Linked DNA regions of Homo sapiens: region 2 is linked to region 1. A link means that fine-mapping ties the variant in region 1 to the expression of a gene that starts in the linked region. Tissue or cell type: testis. Region 1 holds a variant in brackets; the other region holds the start of a gene. All regions are shown on one strand. Distances are between the middles of the regions.

What was found. PIP is the estimated chance that this variant, and not a neighbour inherited with it, causes the effect. A credible set is the group of variants that fine-mapping cannot tell apart.
Region 2: it holds the start of DAW1, and the variant in region 1 is the best candidate, but not a certain one, in a credible set for the expression of DAW1 in testis (GTEx, PIP 0.87).

The regions. Positions count from the first base shown.
Region 1 is chr2:227,913,094-227,923,340 of GRCh38, forward strand. It overlaps DAW1 (dynein assembly factor with WD repeats 1), which reads left to right. Exons shown (of 13, transcript NM_178821.3): 11 at 5,687-5,763; 12 at 8,306-8,468. Among named protein-coding and RNA genes, the nearest start is that of DAW1, 47 kb to the left of the region's middle. The variant A/G (reference allele first, on the strand shown) is at 4,366.
Region 2 is chr2:227,865,745-227,875,991 of GRCh38, forward strand. It overlaps DAW1 (dynein assembly factor with WD repeats 1), which reads left to right and starts at 5,887. Exons shown (of 13, transcript NM_178821.3): 1 at 5,887-5,985. The coding sequence starts at 5,946. It also overlaps the pseudogene CRIPTOP2.

The DNA of each region.
Region 1 (10,247 bases):
ATCTGAATCATCTCCTAGATAACAAAGTGACATGCAATTTTAGGATTCATCTTTCAGAACCTCGCATGAGAAGATCATCTTCTTGATGATGATTTGTGACACTATCCTTTGTTTGGGTCTTGATATCACCACATATTGTGTTAAAACATGACTACATAATATCCTTCATATCGACATGTGATGTTATATTATGTGTACTTCATTTCCTTAATAACTATAGATGATATACTAAGTTACCGCCTTTATAACCATGTGTTATATCTCCCTATTTCTGAGTCATCACCTTGATAACCACATGTGACATTATACTGTGTGTTTCATCATGTTGAAAATCACAGATAATGCTTTTCTCCTTGATAACCACATATGATGCCTGATATTTATATGGACCAGCTCCTTTGTGACATTTATGATGCCATAATATAGGTTATTTCCATGAGGAAAACCCACAGTGCTGCATTCATGCATGTCGTCTCCTTGATATTCATGTATAATGCTATCCTATGTGCCATTTTAAAATTCCCATATGTGATGGTACTCTACATGCACATCATCCCACTGATAACCATGTGATACTATACATGTGTCATCTCCTTGGCACTGTGTATGGTTCTAAAATCAATCTTTGTAGAATCCTTGTACACCACATATATCCCTGTACTATGCATATGTCATGCTCTTTATGGCCACTGAGATGCTACAGTGTCTCTGTCATCTCCCTGATCATCATGTATGACATTACAACATGTCTACACCTTCTGCCAGAAGACAGTCATCATATCTATCTATCTGTCTGTCTGTCTGTCTGTCTGTCTGTCTGTCTGTCTATCTATCTTCATCATCATCATCATCATCATCTATCTAATCTATTGAGAGAGAGAGTCATATATCTGTATCTCTCTCTCTCTCTCTCTCTCTTTCTTTACATTAGGTCTATTCATGTTCCTAAAGGCCTTTATAATGCAACAATATTTCTGTGGCATTTCTTTGATAAACACATAGGACCTCACATCACATCTGTGTCTACCTCATTTGTTTGATAACCGTGAGTGATGCTGTACTATGTCTGCACCACCTCCTTGATAAACAAATATGGTGCTATACTGTGTCTTCATCATCTATGATCCTGTACTGAGGATTATCTTATATTTTGGGTCATTTCTCTGACCATAATGTATGATGCTACAATATGTCTGCATCTTAAACTTGATAACCGTGGCTGGTGCTATAATACTATATGCACCATCTCCTTGATAACCACCTATGATGCTATACTATGTATACCAAATCTCCTTTACAACCATTGATGATCTATGTTATTTGTCATAAGTAGTGATCTATGTTACTTGTCATAAATAGTGATTACTACTTATGATTCTACGCTGAGCCATCATATTGATATCCATATGTGATGCCACTCTGTGTCATCTCTTTGGAAACCATGTATGATGCTACACTCTGTGCACCTTATATCCAAGAAGATTACATATGACGTTACACTAGATTATGTCATCCCCCTTATGCCCACATTTGGCATTGTATTGTCTGCCTCATCTCACTGATGATCACTTATGAGGATACATGATGTCTACTTCACTGTCTGCATTAACATGTATTGTGCTACATCTTATCAGGGTCATCACCTTGAAAACCACCTATGATGCTACATGTTTTCATCACCATCTTGAAATTTATGTTGGAATCAATATGATATCTGTCTTAGATAATGTCGTACTAATATATGTCATCCTTTTAATCACATGATATGTTTACATCATTGATAATCATATATAATTCTAGGCTATAGGCCACCATGACAACTACATGTCATGCTATACTATGTCTGTATCATCTTTTAACATACTACATATATTGGTACATTATGACTTTTTCACCTCCTTGAGAGCCATGTATGATACTGCTGTACTATGGCTAAACTCCCTGATGACAGTGATGCTACATAATGTCTGCATCATACCCTTGACAAAAACATATGGTGCCACACTCTGTCTGCATCATAATTTTATTAAGTATGTGTTATGGTATAGTATTACTGCAGCACACTTTGATAAATATATGATGCTCTGCTTTTATTCATGTTGTGTAGTGATGTAAACTATATCTTCATCCTTTACTTGATGATGATATATGATGCTATACTATGATTTTATTATTTCCACAATATTCTCAAATGACAATCTATTATGGGTCATCTTTTTGATGGTAATGTATGGTGTTACTCTATGTATGTGTCATCACTTGTGTGTCATCAACTTAAGTACTATGTATATGCTATTCTATATTTGCCTCTTTTTCTTGATATCCATAAAGTATGCTATTTTATGGGTCAGTTTCCTAATGACCATGTTTGATGCTGGAAGATGTCTGCATTATCTCTTTGAACACCAAGTGGGATTAATACTATAACTATGTCTTTTCTGCAATGACCCTGTGTGATGCTAAACTATTTCTGTGACACCTCCTTGACAATAACCTCTGATAATCATCTCCTTGAGAATGATGTGTGATGCTGTAACATACCCTGTCTGTAGTAAATCCTATGGTACTAGACTCTGTTTTGGTCTTCTTAATAACACTGAATATATGTACTATGTTTCATCTCACTACTCCCATTTATTGTGCTAAAATATAATTGTCTCTGTCAGCCATATGTGATGCTATCTTATGTGTCATATCCTTAATAGCCATATATAATGCTACACTGTATCTACTTCCTCTTCTTGATAACCACATCAATGTTATACTATTGTCTATATCATGTCCTTGAAAATTCCTTATGATATTATGCCGTAGTTCATCTCATTTAGGACAATTTATAATGCTACAATGTTTGTGCCATCACCTTGAAAGTTACATATGATTATACATTATTTCTGCATATTTTCATGATAGCTATTTTATCAGTCACATATTTCTAATAAACATCTGTGGCATTTAAATCTTTGTGATTTCCCTGATAACCATGTATGATGCAACATTATGTCTTCATTGTCTTATTGAGACCCTGTATGACTATTACCCTGAAAATAATGTACTGCTACACTATATCTAATATGTAATCATCTCCTTGACAACCACTTATGGTTATATGCTATGTCTGCATTGTTTTTAACAGCAGTACATTAATTTATACTATGTTTACATCAATTTAAAAATACTTATGCATGATATTATGAGTAATCTCACTGATGACAGTATTTGATGCTGCAAGATATCTGTGTTATCACCTTGACAACTATATATGGTGCCACACTATATGTGCAAAATCTGCTTGAGAAGTACATATGATGCTGTTATGACTGCGTTGTCTCTTTGGTAACTATGTATGATGTTTAAACCAAGGTCATTCTCTTTGATAGTCACGTATTATGAATGTCAATGTGCATGTCATCTACTTGAAAACCAAGTATGATGCTATACTATTTCTCTGTCATCTTCTTGATAACCTTGTAGAGTGCTTTACTATTTTGCATCATCTTCTAGAAAATTACATATGATAACCATGGATATATGTCATATCCGTGATGGCCATGTATACTATATTATTTGGGTATCATCTTCTGTAGTCCACATATGACCTGTGAAGTCTCCATTATTTTCTTGATGATCATATGTGATGCTACACTATGTCTTTTTCATCTACCTGAACTTGACAGTGATCACACATCAGGCTATACTATGTCTGCGTTATCTCCTTTAAATCCTCATATGATGTACAGCATGTCTATGTTAACATTCTGACTCCTGTGTAGATACTACTATACATCTGGATCATCTTATTGATGATCATGTATGATGCTACACTGTGTATGTGTCAGCTCCATAATTCTGACCTATGTCTGTATAATCTCCTTGTCAGCAATGTATGACACTACACTGTATCTGCATCATCTCCTTGATAACCACATTTGACCCTACACTATGTTTATGTTATCTCTCTGACAACATGTGACACTAAGCTATGTCTGTGTCGTCTCCCTCATGACCATGCATGACAGTATCTATCTATCTATCTATCTATCTATCTATCTGTCTGTCTGTCTGTCTGTCTGTCTGTCTGTCTGTCTATCTATGTATCTATCCATCTATCGATCGATCTATCTACTTTTTCTTCTTTATTGGAATTATTCTGAAGGCTGATTTTTTTGTTTCTTTTTTTTTTTTTAGATGGAGTCTTGCTCTTTCGCCCAGGTGGGACTGCAGTGGCACTATCTCAGCTCACTGCAAGCTCCACCTCCTGGGTTCATGCCATTCTCCTGCCTCAGCCTCCCGAGTAGCTGGGGCTACAGGTGCTCACCACCGCACCCGGCTAATTTGTTGTATTTTTAGTAGAGACGGGGTTTC[A/G]CCGTGTTAGCCAGGATGGTCTCGATCTCCTGACCTCGTGATCCTCCCGCCTCGGCCTCCCAAAGTGCTGGGATTACAGGCATGAGCCACTGCGCCCAGCCGATTTTTTTGTTTCTTTAGTTGTATCCCTATCTGTAAAAAAATTACAGTGTTGCAGGCCATATTATTTCTGAGTTTTCTGAAGTTTAGACATATAGTTTTATAAAACTTAGAGTGTAGATCTGTGCAGGACATTCTCTTTCATGTTATTGACTCTGAAACCAAATTGGTCACTTCCCTTTAAGGCTTTTGAAATGTCCAACCGAATTTCAAGTTATATATTTTTTAATCACATTAATTCTAAAATGGCAGGTTTTGTCATTTTTTGTACCTCCTCATGAAGTTGACATTGTCAGAAAGGCAAGTAAAAAATTTATTATGATATTTTACTTTTCTCTGGATGCAAATCAAGTACCTACAATTTTGTATCCTTGCTATATTTTACTACTATGTAATGCTATAATCAGAGATTTAAAAAAGCAGTCTTCATCTGGCAAGGCAAATTGTAAGTTTTCTTCTAACAAAAATTTTACTACTCATGTTTTTCACTTTCAATACTTATTTATTTAACTTATTCATCCTTTACTGATGAGGAAATGTCCATAGTACTTATTCCATCCATTTCTCCATCCATCCATCCATCCGTCCATCCATCCATCCATCCATCCATCCATCATCCATCCATCCATCCATCCATCCATCCATCCATCCATCCATCCATCCATACTACAGCTATTTATTGAATGGCTAATATATGCTTGGCGCTTTTGGCGCTGGAGGCAGAGCAGGAAAAAAGCATTCTATTAGCTTTTTCTGTAGAAAAGGGTTTTTGAAGCCTGTTTTTTGCCTGTTGAGTAGCGGCTGATGCTCCTTCTTGGGATGTTCCTTGTGTACCTTGCAGAAACTCAGACTCACACCTAGTGTATCATGCTGGTCTTGCTGCTTATTTCATCACCTGCCTCTTGAAACTTGCTCTAATTCCTCTTTTTCTCTTAAAGTTTTTTCTTTCTGGATTCCTGCTTCTTGGTCTCTTTTCTACCTTGGAATACATTATTTCTTCTAATAAGCTCAGGGCTAAAGAGGAGCTCCCTCTCACCCTCTCCTGCAATGGGACCAGCAGGCATTTAGAGTATTAAGTATCTGGCTCTCAACACAGGCAAGAAGATGAACTTAGCACAGAGCTCGTGTGTCAGGGGGATATATATTTATACAATGCAAAGTCTTTTATCCAAAGTTCTGTATTTAAGATGAATTTATATATATCCCCACCCCTCTCAAAAAGGAACAGCAAGAATTTTCAGTGCTGCCACAAGAAAATGCATTGCCAAACTGGAAGGTCATGAAGGTGAAATTTCAAAGGTGAGTCGCTTTCTCATTTGGAGGAGTTTATTTACTTTCAAAAAATAAAGAGCAGGGCCCAGGTGCAGTGCCTCACACCTATAATCCCAGCACTTTGAGAGGAAAAGGTGAGAAGATTGCTTGAGGCCAGGAGTTCAAGACCAGCCTGGGCAACATAGGGATACCTCATCTCTACAAAAAACAAAAAAAGTCAGCTGTGCATGGTGTTACCCACCTGTAGTCCCATCTACTGTGGAGGCTGAGGAAGGAGGATTGCTTGAGCCCAGGAGGTCAAGGCTGCAGTGAGATGTGATTGCACCACTGCATTCCAGCCTGGGTGACAGAGCAAGACCCTATCTAGAAAAAAAAAAAAGAAAAAAAAAAAAAAAGCATGCTCAGTATAAATAGGTCTATTGGAATTGAAGTACTAAGATTAAGATTTGTTCTATTGTCTCATGTTTTTTTCTAGAAATCACTTACCTAAAGACTTTATTTTTAACTGTGCCCTCAAACTTAGCATAATAAATTATTTCTAAAACCTCTTAAAAAGTATGGAACAGCATTCGCCTCCACTGTCAGCAAAAGATTTAGTTAGCTGAAGATATTTAATATGGCAATTTAAGGAGCGTGTAAACTGCTTTTCCTGGTTCCGGTAAACACATAAGTTTATGTTGTGCGAAAAATATGCTGGGCAGCAAGTATCAAGTGTTCTGTAAGTTAGATGCAATTGAGGAAGTAGTTCCTGGAAATATGTAAAATTATAATTAAAATTAAATTATAAAATTATCCATTTTGAAACTACAAAGCTGTGTTTTAGGATTTTGTATAAACTTCCCCCAAAGGATCATTCACGGAGCAGGCCCACCCAGTCAGTGATCTGAAGTTTAGATGTGTCATCAGAACTTCGTAGAGTAGGCTAGGATTGGTGGCTCTCACCTCCCAGCTCAGCACAATCCCTTGGTTCCCTGTCTGAGATCAGATTTGTTCCTGCTTTGCAAAATATCAGCTTGATGATTTTAGGTTTCTAAAGGCCCCTTCTAGACCCTGGAACTCCGCCCCAGGCTGTACTCTCGGCCTTTCTGCTTCTGCACCTACAGCTGGTGATCATTGCCCTCTGGCTGGTCAGTGGTGGTCTCCAGGGCATGCAGACTATGGCCTCTTCATAAGCTGGGAGGCTTATGGATGGCAGGAGGGGATGGAAAAGTGGGGTGTGGGAGGCAGGATGAGGAGGAAGCCTGGCCCATGTTTCTGAGTGTCTGGCTAGGTAGCTATTGAGACATCTGTGTGTCTCCTCCATAAGTAAACATCTATTTTCATGAATGAGTGAATACAAAGAATTCTCTAGTGCTATTTTATTACATTTTATGCTTTTTAAATGAACATATTACTTATTGAATTGGCATCTGGTAAGGGCATTTCTATGGGGTGCAAAGCTAAAGTATTCACTCATTCAACAAACACTTTTAGAGAGTGTCCACTGTGCTGGGCATTGCACAGCCACTGGTAACAGAGTGATAAAAACAGATACGGCCCTGCCCTCCTCAAACCTTCAGTCATTGAGGAGATGGCCCGAATCTCTGTCTTCTGGTGATTAGAGGGGGATGTAAGTGTGACACCCAAAGGGATGCAGGACTAACAGGTTCCTTTGATGGTCACTCAGATGCCAGTTGGCAACACCTGGCACACGGGAGGCACAGAAGCGTATTTATGGAAAATGCTATACTTGGGGTGGCAGTAGATGAGAACATCCTTTCTTGTAGGTTCTACATTCACTTATTCTATGGCACAGATTAGAGAAGGATCTGTGTGCTTTTTAAAAAATTTTTATTTATTTATTTTTATTTTTTATTATTTTTTTTGAGATGGAGTCTTGCTCTGTTACCCAGGCTGGAGAGCAGTGGCATGATCTCAGCTCACTGCAACCTCCACCTCCCAGGTTTAAGCGATTCTCCTGCCTCAGCCTCCCCAGTAGCTGGAATTACAGGTGTGTGCCACCATCCATGCCAAGCTAAATTTGTATTTTTAGTAGCGACGGGGTTTCGCCATGTTGGCCAGGCGGTCTTGAACTCCTGACCTCAGGTGATCCACCTGCCTTGGCCTCCCAAAGTGCTGGGATTACGGTCCTGAGCCACCGCCCCTGGCCCGGATCTGTGTGCTTTTGACCACAAAGATGACACCAGGGTTTGGCTACGAAGGATCCTGACTCGTGTGTTCATCCACACCAGGGCCCTGCATCTTTGCACAGAGAAGGGCATCGTGCATCTTTGGAAAGAAGCTGGGTGGGGAATACTCAAATTATAAGGATGCTTTGGTCTTTATTCTTAGAAATGTGAGGAGTAGGCAATTACATTTTCTCTCTGGATTTTAGTTTCCATGTACTAGTCCCTGCAATATTTTTTTCCATTATGAAGAAATTGTTCTATGCAAGAATAAATACCAGACTAGGAAGGTGACATGTGCTGTAATGTCCTTTTTTTTTTTTTTTTTTTTTTTTTTTTGCTGATAAGAAATGTTTTGGGAACCATTACACAAAGCTGTGATCATTTTTCTTTCTCTTTTGCAGATTTCTTTCAACCCTCAAGGGAACCATCTTCTAACTGGCAGCTCTGACAAAACGGCTAGAATCTGGGATGCTCAGACTGGCCAGTGCCTCCAGGTTCTTGAGGGGCACACTGATGAAATCTTTTCATGTGCTTTCAACTATAAAGGCAACATAGTCATTACAGGTATGGAAGACATCAACACCATAGACTCATTTTTTCTTGATTGGCTGTTAGAGTTCCCAAGCTGAATACTAACAGGAGTTCATCCCCATTCCCTACCTCTTTTCTGGAGTCACTAGCTCATCTTGGCCTGCCCTCATATTTTCATTATTTAATTTTAGTTTTATGAGGACCCACAGGAGTGAGCGCTGCCATTGACTGTAGTAAGCCTTTGTGAACTTTGAATTTTATTTGCTCTAGATAAGGTAACAATTTGATAGCCTGCCTTACAGGTTACTAAATTTCCCCAGGTGTTTTCTATCAATTGAATGGTTAATATTTAGTCAGCCAGGCGCATTGGCTCATGCCAACAATCTCAGTGCTTTGAGAGGCTGAGGCAGAAAAAATGCTTGAGGCCAGCCTGGGCAACATAGTGAGACCCCGTCTCTACAAAAAAAATAGAGCATTAGCTGGGCATGGTGGCGTACACCTGTAGTCCCAGCTACTCAGGAGGCTGAGGCTGGAGGAGCACTTGAGCCAAGGAGTTGGAGGCTTCAGTGAGCTATGATCAGGCCACTGCACTCCAGTCTGGGTGACAGAGTAAGACCCTGTCTCAAGAAAAAAGTTGAGTTTATGTCAGTAAGTGTTAGTAACCAAAACAAGTCAGGATCAAAATTCTCCCCAGTTGGCTTTACAGCCCATTAGAGATTTATTCTTTGAGCAGAGTTGTTTTCTCCCCTGCTAAAGCACTAATGTCTGGGGGGAAAGAACATGTATTAACCATTTTTCAACCGTTAACAGTTTATGGTGAATTAATAATATTAGCAACATTTCATAAGAAAAGGGTAGTTTAGATCGTGGAAAGGGGAGAAAAATGACAAGATGATGGTATCATGTTAGTGGAGTGCCTCGAGGGGAGGCCTTGGCAGGGAATGGGTGCCACAATAGTGTGGAGTAGGGCACCCTAAGTGAGCACAGAAGACCAGATCTGCCTAAGTACCAGTGATTCTCATCATGTTGAGCAAATTTAAAAATTACTAGTCTAATAAGTTAAATGCCACAGGCCCAAGGCTGGCTTTACATATTGGCCAATTAGGTGGTTTCCTTGTCAGATAACTTCAGGGGTGCTGAGAATTATCTCCCCTTACCACCTAAAATGCCTCCCCAGTCTACTTAATGATGGACAGTTTCCGAAATCACAGGGCTTACGATCTTCAAAATCTTTGGGCTTATGATTTTCAAGTGTTAACTAAGATGTAGGTACTTTGAAAGCACTGGGAAAACAAGCCATAGATTTTTGTTGTGAACACAATATCAAATCCTTCTCCTTGATGAGAAAAGAGGTGAGGGGCTATGATGGAGGGCACAGGGCGCTCCTGCAGGGAGTGAGAAAGAAGGAAGACCAGCCTTTCCTAGTCCACATGGCCTCATATGAGGCTGGCTCTGCAGTACTTCTTCCCTCAACCAGTTTTCACAGAAGACCCTGGAGAGTTTAGCAAAAGAATTTTTGTTATTGTGCCTTGCGTTGGTGCCAGCACATACATTCCTGAGCTCTTTGAAGATACCACTGATTAATTTAGTGTATCCCAAAGCACCAAAGTGCTTAACATTGGCTCACTAGACAACAGAGCTTATTAGATTGGGGTGACACTTTTCTCTTGCCATCGATGGAGCAGTCACTTTATTTGAAAGAATCTACTCTATTTTCCGAGTGGACCCTGGTGTGATAAACTGCAGGCATTTTGTAGTGGCCTACCTGAGGCTGGATTTAGAATCACAAAGTAAATGGCAGAAAAATAGCTG
Region 2 (10,247 bases), 47 kb before region 1:
TAGCTGGGATTACAGGCAGGTGCCATCATGCCCGGCTAATTTTATACTTTTGGTAGAGACAGGGTTCCACCACGTTGGTCAGGCTGGTCTCAAACTCCTGACCTCAGGTGGTCCACCGCCTCGGCCTCCCAAAGTGATGGGATCACAGGCGTGAGCCACCTCACCTGGCAACCTACAATCATTTCAAACTCACCCGAAGTCTGATTCTTTCTGTGAATAACTCCCTTGCAATATTTTTCAGAATTAGATCTATAACAGCAGCATGCCTGGTACTAGCAGGTCCTTTATACACATTTATTGAATGATACAATTAGTGGCCCTGGCCCTGTTAGTTTTCAAGTCCCAGGTAAGATCAGATGCTTTTGAGTCCTGCTGTGGGGATGGAGGCAGGCAGAGGAAGAGGGTAAATGGCGATGTCTGGTCCACATGCCCCCACCCTGATGCCGTTCCTCCGCTCTGGGGCCTGCTGTGATGAGGTCACCTTTAAACCCTGTGCACAGCAGACTGCTCCTGCCTGGCTCTGAGCATCTGTGCCTTCTCTTTCTAGGAGAGGATTGCATCTCTCTTTTTATCTGCTGCTCTCAGTGAGGCTCCAACACCAGTGATGCAGTCATCTCACTGAAGTTGGTTTTCTCCAGGAGAAGCTGAGCCAAATGGAATCCACCAAGCCCAGCCGCAGCCGGAAGCCCTACTCCTCCCTTACCTTGCCCAGCCTCAAAAATACAGAATCTGGATCCCCCGGACTGACTCCTTCTTCCTTCTCCTCCTCCTCCTCTTTCTCTCTCTCTCTCTATAAATATAAATATATATATGTATAGATATACTACATCCATATATATATATATATATTTTGAGACAGGTTCTGGCTCTGTCACCCAGGCTGGAGTGCAGTGGTGTGATCTCAGCTCACTGAACCACCGCCTCCTAGGCTCAAGCCATCCTCCCACCTCAGCCTCCTGAGTGGCTTGGACTACAGGTGAGTGCCACCACACTGGGCTAATTTTTGTACATTTTGTAGAGATGGGGTTTTTCCCTGTTGCCCAGGCTGGTCTCAAACTCCTGAGCTCAGGCAGTCTTCCTGCCTTGGCCTCCCAAAGCACTGTGATTACAGGCGTGAGCCACCAGAGCCACCATACATATTTTGATTTTAGAGACTACCTCCCTCCCCAACTCCCATCCTCCCAGGTACCTTCTGATTCTTCCCTCAGCCTGATGTCCACTGTCCTCTCTCAGTGCATTGGAGCATCTGAAACCCAATTATGTAGAAAATTCCAGCTTCTTCCCGTGTTGTTTCTGGTTCTCATTTACATTCGAGGATGTGGTTGAACAATCAATTTACTGTTCCTGACAATCAGGGAAGACTGCCTGGAATACACAGAAAGACCTGATCATTGGAGATGAAGCCCAATTTCACTCACTTCGTTCTGTCCAAGCCAGTGTAACCTATTAAGCTAGCACAGTGGCTCTCAAGCTTCATCATTCACTAGAATCACCAGGAAAGCACATTTAAACATGGGTTGTTGGACTTCACCATCAGTGTTTCTGATTCAGTAGGTCGGGACTCGGGGGAGGCGAAAATGTACATTGCTGATGAATTCCTAAGTGATACTGACCCTGCTGGTCCGGGAACCATGCTTGGAGAACTGAAGCCTAGAGTGACTTCACTGTATTAGCCTGGATTGGTTTAGGAGATTAAAATTACTGCTACTCATTATTTAGTTTCTGGTTGTTCAAGGCAGGTCCTGGTGGGAATGTCTTAGTTCAGGCTTCCATAACAAGTACCGTTGACTGGGTGGCTCACAAACAATAGAAACTTCTTCCTCACAGTTCTGGAGGCTGGAAGTCTGAGATCAGGGTGCCAGCATGCCCTTTTATTTTGAAATAAATCAGTATACTTTTCCTAAGAACAAGGACATTCTCTTACATAACCAGTACAATGATCAAAGTCAAGAAACTTAACACTGATAAAATACTATTATCTAAACCACAATCCCTATATACAGAGTTCATCCATTGTCTCAACGATGCCCTTTGTAAGTAATTATTATTCTGGTTCAGGATCTATCATCACTCAGTGCATTTAGTTGTCCTTTTTAGATTTATTTAATCTCAAGTATTTCTTTAGAGTTTTCTTTCCTTGACTGTCAACAGTTATTTTATACAATTTCCTCAGTTTGGTTTGCTCCGATGTTTCCTTATGATTTGAGTCAAGTAATTCATTTTGGGCAGGAATTCCAGAGAATTGCTGTTTTTTTTTGTTTATTGTTTTTTGTTTTTTTTTTTAACAGAGTCTTGCTCTGTTGCCAGGCTGCAGTGCAGTGGCACGATCTCGGCCCACTGCAACCTCCGACTCCCTGGTACAAGCAATTCTCCTGCCTCAGCCTCCAGAGTAGCTGAGATTACAGGCACGTTCCACCACGCCCAGCTAATTTTTGTATTTTTAGTAGAGATGCGGTTTCACCATGTTGGCCAGGATGGTCTCGATCTCCTGACCTTATGATCTGCCCACCTTGGCCTCCCAAAGTGCTGGGATTACAGGCATGAGCCACTGCACCCGGCTTTGCTGTGTTCTCTTCAGTGCATCGTAATACCAGGTAATATATGTCAGTTTGTCCCACTATTGGTGATGTCCTCCCTGACTCAAGTGATCCTTTCACCTCAGCCTCCTGAGTAGCTGGGACAATAGGGGCATGTACCACACCCAGCTAATTAATTTTTTTGTAGAGACCGGATCTTGCCTTGTTGCCTAGGCTGGTCTTGAACTCCTGGGTTCAAGCAATCCTCCTAACTTGGCCTCCCAAAGTGTTGGGATTATAGGTAAGAGCCACCGTGCCCCACCCAAAGATCACGTTTTAAATGGGTGCCCCACCCAAAGATCACATTTTAAATGGCATGAGCACAAGCAATAACATAGGTGACCAAAATCTACCAAAGACTTTCTCATTTCTATAGAGCAAACTCTTTGCCCCTCCCTCCATAAGTCCTTCCAGAGTGTCTTAGTGGCTAGGAGAAAGTTTGAGCTGGGAGAGAGCTTGGATTTCATACGGTTCCCTGTTTTCCAAGTATGGGATGCTTACTACTGGTGAGAAAAAGATGATTTTTTTTTTGCACATTTATATTGGGTTAAATTGTGTCACTTAGTAGCAAAGGCTTTGCCATCTCAACAATCTTTTCAATCTTCTGAACACATCAAGTAGGAAGGCTCAGTTGAGTGCTATTCCGTCTTGTAGCCTGTCTTAACAATCTCAAACAGTTGCTAATTTCCTTCCTTCCCTTCCTCCCTCCCTCCCTCCCTCTTTCTTTCCTTTCTTCCTTCCTTTGTTTACAAAGAAAGGGATGGTTTTGGGTTCAGAGTCTTTGGCAGTATATAGTAATTAGTATATAGTAATATAGTAATATATAGTAGTATATAGTAATTCAATGCCTTTAGGTCAATATATTTTCCATTTTTACTGTGCATACGCATATATACAATGTATTTTAAAAGTTGGCTTTACAATATGTAGTTTTATCATTTGGTTTACAACTAAATATATTGTGAACATTTTCTCTTCTACAACAGTTAAAAGAATTGCATAGCTTGGAGGAAACATAATTTATTAAGCAGTCTTGTTGGGGACATTGAGGTATAATTTTTTTTTTATAAGGAGACTTCATTCTTTTTACAACACCTTTGGGAAAAAAATTGGAGTCCTTGTCTCATATAGCTTTCTATAGATGACGGAAACTTACCCTTCCATTTAGCCTTTTAACTTTCTTCTCTACACCCACCTAATCACCATCAAGTAACCCATTTTATGTTTTCCAACCTCTCTCTCCCATTTGCTTCCTCTTTCCTACCCAGTCTCCCTGCATACATGCAGATGAACTTCCATTCCTTCAGCCCTCTGTTTCCTCCCCTTAAAGAGGCTTTCTTTCCATTTAAAGAGACTATTTTAATTGATTTTTATCAACTCTACTCAAAACTGTATCCTAAGGTCCACATTAGGATTGGTCTTTAATAATCTGAAGATAATATTCAATTGTTTAAAAGAACTTTTAAGAAGACCTTGGTAGAATTACATGTATCAAGAAACATGACTTAGGCACAATGGAGATATGGCTGACTTTCTTTTGAAAAAAGAAGTAGTTTTTGTGGGGAGGGCAGGGCAAAGAGGTAAGAAGTATTTGGTACTACAAGGAAATGTTAGAGACCATTTTGGAAATGTATTCATTATTTTAAGGCAACTAACAAATGATCATCTTTCAGTTAGGACATTATAGCAGCAGCCTTTACTGGTCATGAAATTTGAATGATATCTAAAATCATATTTCTGGAAATAGGTCAATGTCAATTAATAGTAACTTTGTATAGAAAGGCAGATGCCAGCTAGCATATAAAAGTGGTGCATGCAGACGGTGGTAGTTCTGGAGTCCTGGGAGCCATGAGGTGCTCATCCATCACAAGGCCATCACAGCCAGGTAGAAATGCCTGAGGAAAGCAGCGGAGCTGCCCGTGCCAGCATTTACACATGGAACACTTCTTGGGCAGCCGGGTGTCATGGGGCACAGACCCACAATTCTCTTTGCGTACACCGTGCTCACAGTTCCATCCATAGAAGGAGGGGAGGCAGGCACAAAAGGACCCCAGCATGCAGGTTCCCCCATTCAGGCAGCAGGTTCTGTTTGGCTCCTTACTGTCCTGTATCCCCATGGGGGGCACAAGCTGGGAAGACCGAGGACGAATTGCAGGCTCCTCCTGGGGCTGAATGCTGTCATCTCTGAAGGCCAGGTCTCCCTGAGATGGACGCACAAGTTCCCGATGGCTCAGCCTTTAACAAGCAATTCAACGCCTTTAAAAAATTGCCTTTACTTTTACAGTTACTGGCTGTTTACTGAAAATTTCATATAATTTTAAATTTAGAAATAAAAACTTCACAGATGGAATTAAATTTCATATAATTTTCAGTAAACAGCCAGTAACTGTAAAAGTAAAGGTAATTTTTAAGATTACATTTTACTAAGTGAAGTAAAATAAGTGAGTCAATCTAGAGACATTTTAAGAACTTAAAACTTAGGTATGGATCTCTGGAAGAGGTAAGGAGAGATATGGCTCATAGTTGCGCAGATAACACAGGAATGACTCAAGTTTGAGAAATTCCAGTTGAGGCCAAATTCCTTAAAGGAAATTGACAAGCTGGTTGGCTGACTCTGTCTCTCCGCAGGCTTTCTCATGGAAACGTGGCAGGCAAACAACGATGCTGGCAAGAAATTGGACAAGCCGCATGAAGGCCTGGAGAGTTTTAAGCCCAGGTTGAGAGCACAGGTGTAGGCTTTCTGGTGTAGGTTCCGACGCACCTGCCTTCCATTCCCGCCTATCCATTTAGGCTGCGACCTCTGGTAGTTCTCCACTTTCTCTAATTCTGAGTTACTTCATCCTTAAGAAGTGGTGCATAACTCACACCTTGTTAGGATTGTATGAGTATGTGTGCATACACCGTTTAAAGCAATGTAGGGCACAGAGTCAGGAAATGCAAAATATTAAGTTGAGGTCATTTTTCTTTTGGGAGGACAAGGACAGGGCACGGGCTGGGGCCCTAGAGTAGTAATTAGCGATGGGCTTTTCCTCCCAGCCTTCCTTTTGGGAAACGCAGTGTGCTAAAAAAGTGCATGCAGCCCAGGCTGTGGCCTAGGCCGTCGGTTCCCGGCCATGCCTAGCTCCTCTGAGGTCGCCCTTAGTGAGGACACGAGGTGCCCTCACCTCTTTCACTCTAGACACCTCCAGAACACTCGCCCCCCGCGCGCCGGAGCCCCGGGTCGCCACCAACCGCCCGCGGAGCCAGACCTCCCAGCTCTGCGCCCCAGGACCGCGCGGTGCAACCTGCGCATGCGCACCCGCGTCCCGCTGCTGTTTAGCCGTTTCCAAGGCTACGAAGCCCATCGGCCGGGGATAAGAGAGCAAGAAAATGAAGCTCAAGAGCCTCCTGCTCCGGTATTACCCGCCAGGTACGCACCAGCCCGGCCCCGTCATCCCCACGTGGGACCCTGGGCTCCCAGACTGGGAGGGTTTGGGGCGGAGGAGGGCGCAGCCACTGAAAGGCGGCGGGGTCCCCAGGTGGGGCAGGAAGTCGGGCACTTCCCAACCTGTGCCCCTCATTCCTTCAGATGCTGGACTCTTCCTCAAAACATTAACAATTACTCTTTTAGGAATTTAAAGAGTTTAGCTTGACTGTGCATGTCAGTCTGTCTGCATTTATTGAGTGCCTACTGCGTACACGCTTTGTGCTCTCTGCTATGGACCTTTAAAGAAGTTCATAGTGCTTGATTTCAATGAGTGAAGTAATTATGAAATAAATTACTTAACTATTACTTAGTAACATAAGCAATACATTAATTACCTAATCCTTGCCTAACTCTAATTTTAGGTGAGGACATGGTCACCTTTAAAGAATAAGTGACACCCATTGATCACCCAGCTTCTTAGGGACAGAAATAGGAGTGCAATTCTTGGGTTCTAATTCAGAACTCGTCTTCTGAATTAGAAACATCTGCAAAAAAAAAAAAAAAAAGAAAAAAAAGAAAAAAATCTGCAAAACATACCACAAGGCAGAAGATAACCAAATACACTTGCCCAATGAAGTTTGGATAGGAAGTGTCATAAAGATTTCAAAGGAGGGTAAGATACTTTGGACCGGTTTTGTTAAGAATAGCTTTATGAGGGGTGGGACTTGAATTTCAGGTTGAATATCTCACTTTTCCCTGCAACACATCCAACTGCTTGGTCAACATCGCCGATGAGGTATCGCATAGAGATCTCATGATTTCTTTTTTCCAGTCCCATCCCAATCCTGCTGCTTCCTCAAACTGTGCCCTGCCAGTAGAAGGCATCATCACCCAGCCTGTTTTTTGCCAGAAACCTAGGTGGTCACTTTTTGTTTCTCTCCTGTGATCATTCACTGCCTCCCCCACCCCCCCAACCCCCGGCATTCCGTTATCATTCTGCCAGCTCTAAGTCCAAAATATTCTGTGAATCCATCAGATTATCCCTCTTTCCATAGCACAGATTTCTTGGTCTAACATCCCTTCCAGCTGCCAACCTAGTCCAACCCTCCATTCCAGCCACCATTCCCTTTGGCTGAGCCACTCCAGTGGCTTTTCAACTGGATTCCTGGTTTTCACCCTCATCTCCTACAATCCATCTGCCACTAGGAGCCAGTGGGATCTGAATTCAAGATCTCCAATAGCTTCCTATCATGCTTAGAATACGATCCGCAACCTGTGGGATTTGGCTCATTCTGTGCTGCTGACTTCTAAAACTTCACTTGTCTACCCTCACTATACTTCTGACTTCTTTAGCTTGTTCTTCTAAGACTTAAGAGAGGGCCTTTCACTCATTCGTTTTTTGGACCCAGCTTTCCCTAGAGCTAGGAAAAGCTGCTTCCTTTTCTTCATTCAGTTTCAATCAATGTCAACCACCTGAAGAGACTTTCCTACCTATTCAAAGTAGCCTGCACTGATTTTACTCTATGCCATAAAGTGCTTAAAAATTATATTTGTCATCATCCAAAACTCTACTTGTTTTGTTTCAAATGTCTGCCCCTTTCCCATTTAATGTAAACTTCGTGAGAACTAAGATCTTAGTGTGGTTTGATCATTGTAGCACCCTCAGCTTCTAGAAGAGATTTGGTGACACAGAAGATCAGGAATGTTTGTTGAATGAATGTATGGATAAATGGATGTGTTTGATGAGAGGTCAGGTATGGAAATTACTGAAAATAAACACTGAAAATCTTAAGGGATGCTGCTTCTGCCTCCCTGGAAGACCGATCCTGGACAGCTACTTTCTCCAATGGGAAGTTGACATTTGTAGAAAAGACATGCATTTTCTCCTTCATAGAATTCCAGTTAAAATAATATGAGAAAGCTATATATATGACAGTATCTAGATAAATTTATTTTATGTAATTAATTAATTAATTTAATTTTTGAGACAGAGTCTTGCTCTGTCACCCAGGTTGGAGTGCAGTGGTGCAATCCAACTCCACCTCTTGGATTCAAATGATTCTCATCCCTTAGCCTCCCAGGTAGCTGGAATCACAGGTGTGCACTACCAAGCCCAGCTAATTTTTGTATTTTTAGCAGAGACGGGGTTTCACCATGTTGGCCAGGCTGGTCTTGAATTCCTCACCTCAAGTGATCCACCTGTCTTGGACTCCCAAAGTGCTGGGATTACAGATGTGAGCCACTGCATCAGGCTGAGAGTATCTACGAAATTTAAATTAGGCATAGGTAGATAGTATATAGAAAATTTAAAATTAAGACTAATAGTCTGTTTCCTTTAAGTATTCCATAATTTTCTTTTGGCTCTTTTTGCCCATAGGCCTGTGCTGGTTCCCATAGATGTACCAATAAATGAAGCTCTTGCTTTCATCTCTTTGTTGTGGAGTGTAGGTTAAGAATATGAGCTCTGGGTTCAGAATAACGGCTTCTCACCATATACAATAATAAAAAAACTTGGGCAATTTGTTTTATTCTATCAAAGCATGGGTACATGGTGACAACAGCACCACTTCACAGGTCTACTAGACCCTTCCAGCTTCTTATCTTATTTGATTCTTTCTCTTCAGAGTAGAGAAAATTTTTGGAAGAATACTCTCCCCAAGTGCTGTCCTCCCTTCCTATCATGTTTTCACGCGGATTGCCCCACTGAAACTGCCCACTTTAAGATCTCCAATGACATTCACATTGCTAATCTACTGGCCAAGCCACAGTCCTTGCCTGCCTTGACCTGACAGCAGCATTCAACCACTCTGCTTTTCTTTGGCTTCCAGGACACATATTCTATTTTCCTTCCTGTCTCACGTCACTTCTTCTGTGTCTATCTTGTTGGTTCCTCTTCTTCTTTTTGATTATTTAATGTTGGAGTGCCCCAGAGCCCCAACCTTGGATTTCTCCTTTCTATCTACACTCATACACTATGCAATCTCATCCATTCTCAAGGCTTAAAAACTATCCTGAACTGAGGTCAGGAGTTCGAGACCAGCCTGCCCAACATGGTGAAACCCCGTCTCTACTAAAAATACAAAACAATTAGCCAGGTGTGGTGGTGCGGGTCTGTAATCCCAGCTACTCAGGAGGCTGAGGCAGGAGAATCGCTTGAATCTGGGAGGTGGAGGTTGCAGTGAGCCAAGATCACACCAATGCACTCCAGCCTGGGTGCCAGAGCAAGACTCTGTCTCAAAACAAACAAACAAACAAACAAACAGAAAAACAAAAAACAAACCATCCCGCATAGTCCTGAGTACCTGAGTGCCCACCCGACACATTCATTTGAATGTCCACCGTACATCTCATGTGGGGGTCTCCCATGGTCTTCCCCATCTCAGCAAATTGCAGCTCCATTTCTCCACTTACTCATGCCAAACATTTTGGACTCTTCCTTGTCTCTCTCTCATCTCCACATCCACTAACAAATCCTGCTAGTCCTGCCTCCAAAATATATGCAGAATCCAACAATTTCTACTACCTGACCACTACCATTCTTTTTAGCTTGAAAGCTTCCTTCCACCCTTGCCCCTCTTCAGTCTATATGGCAATGGGATGGCTCTGTTAGAACATAAATATGACCATGTCACTCTTCTGCTCCAGCCCTCCAATGACTTCTCAGCTCGTTTAAAGTAAAAGGACCATGATCCCCAAGGCCCTGCAAAATCTCACCCCCTGTTGCTTCCCTGACCTCACCACTTTCGACTTTTCCCTCCAGCAACACTCCTCTCCTTGGTGTTCCTTGAATGGGGCAGAGGTGTCCCCACCCAGGGTCTGCAGTTGGTGTTCTTTCTGCCTCGAATAATCTACCCATGGACATTTGTATCACTAGTGCCCCATATTTTTAAAGTCTTTCCTCAAAATTGTGTAAAGTGAAGACTTAGATATCTCCTTTCTGAGCATTTCTATCTTCTTCCCATGATATTTCACAGCCCCTTTCCCTGGTTTGTCTTTTCTCCTTGGGGCTATCTTAATCCAACTCATCATTGTTTCACTCATTTATTTTGCTTATTCTTTCCCACGAGAATAAAAGATTGACGAAGGCAGGAACTTTGTCTATTTTGTTTGCTCCTTATCTCTAGCACCCAGAGGAGAGCCTGGTGCATAAAATGACATTAATGTTTTTGTTGAATAAGTGAGTTTAATGAGATGATGTGTGTTAAGCAGAATGCCTCAAACTCTTCCTGAAGTGTGAAAGGGCCAGATAAGTGATCTTTGATCTA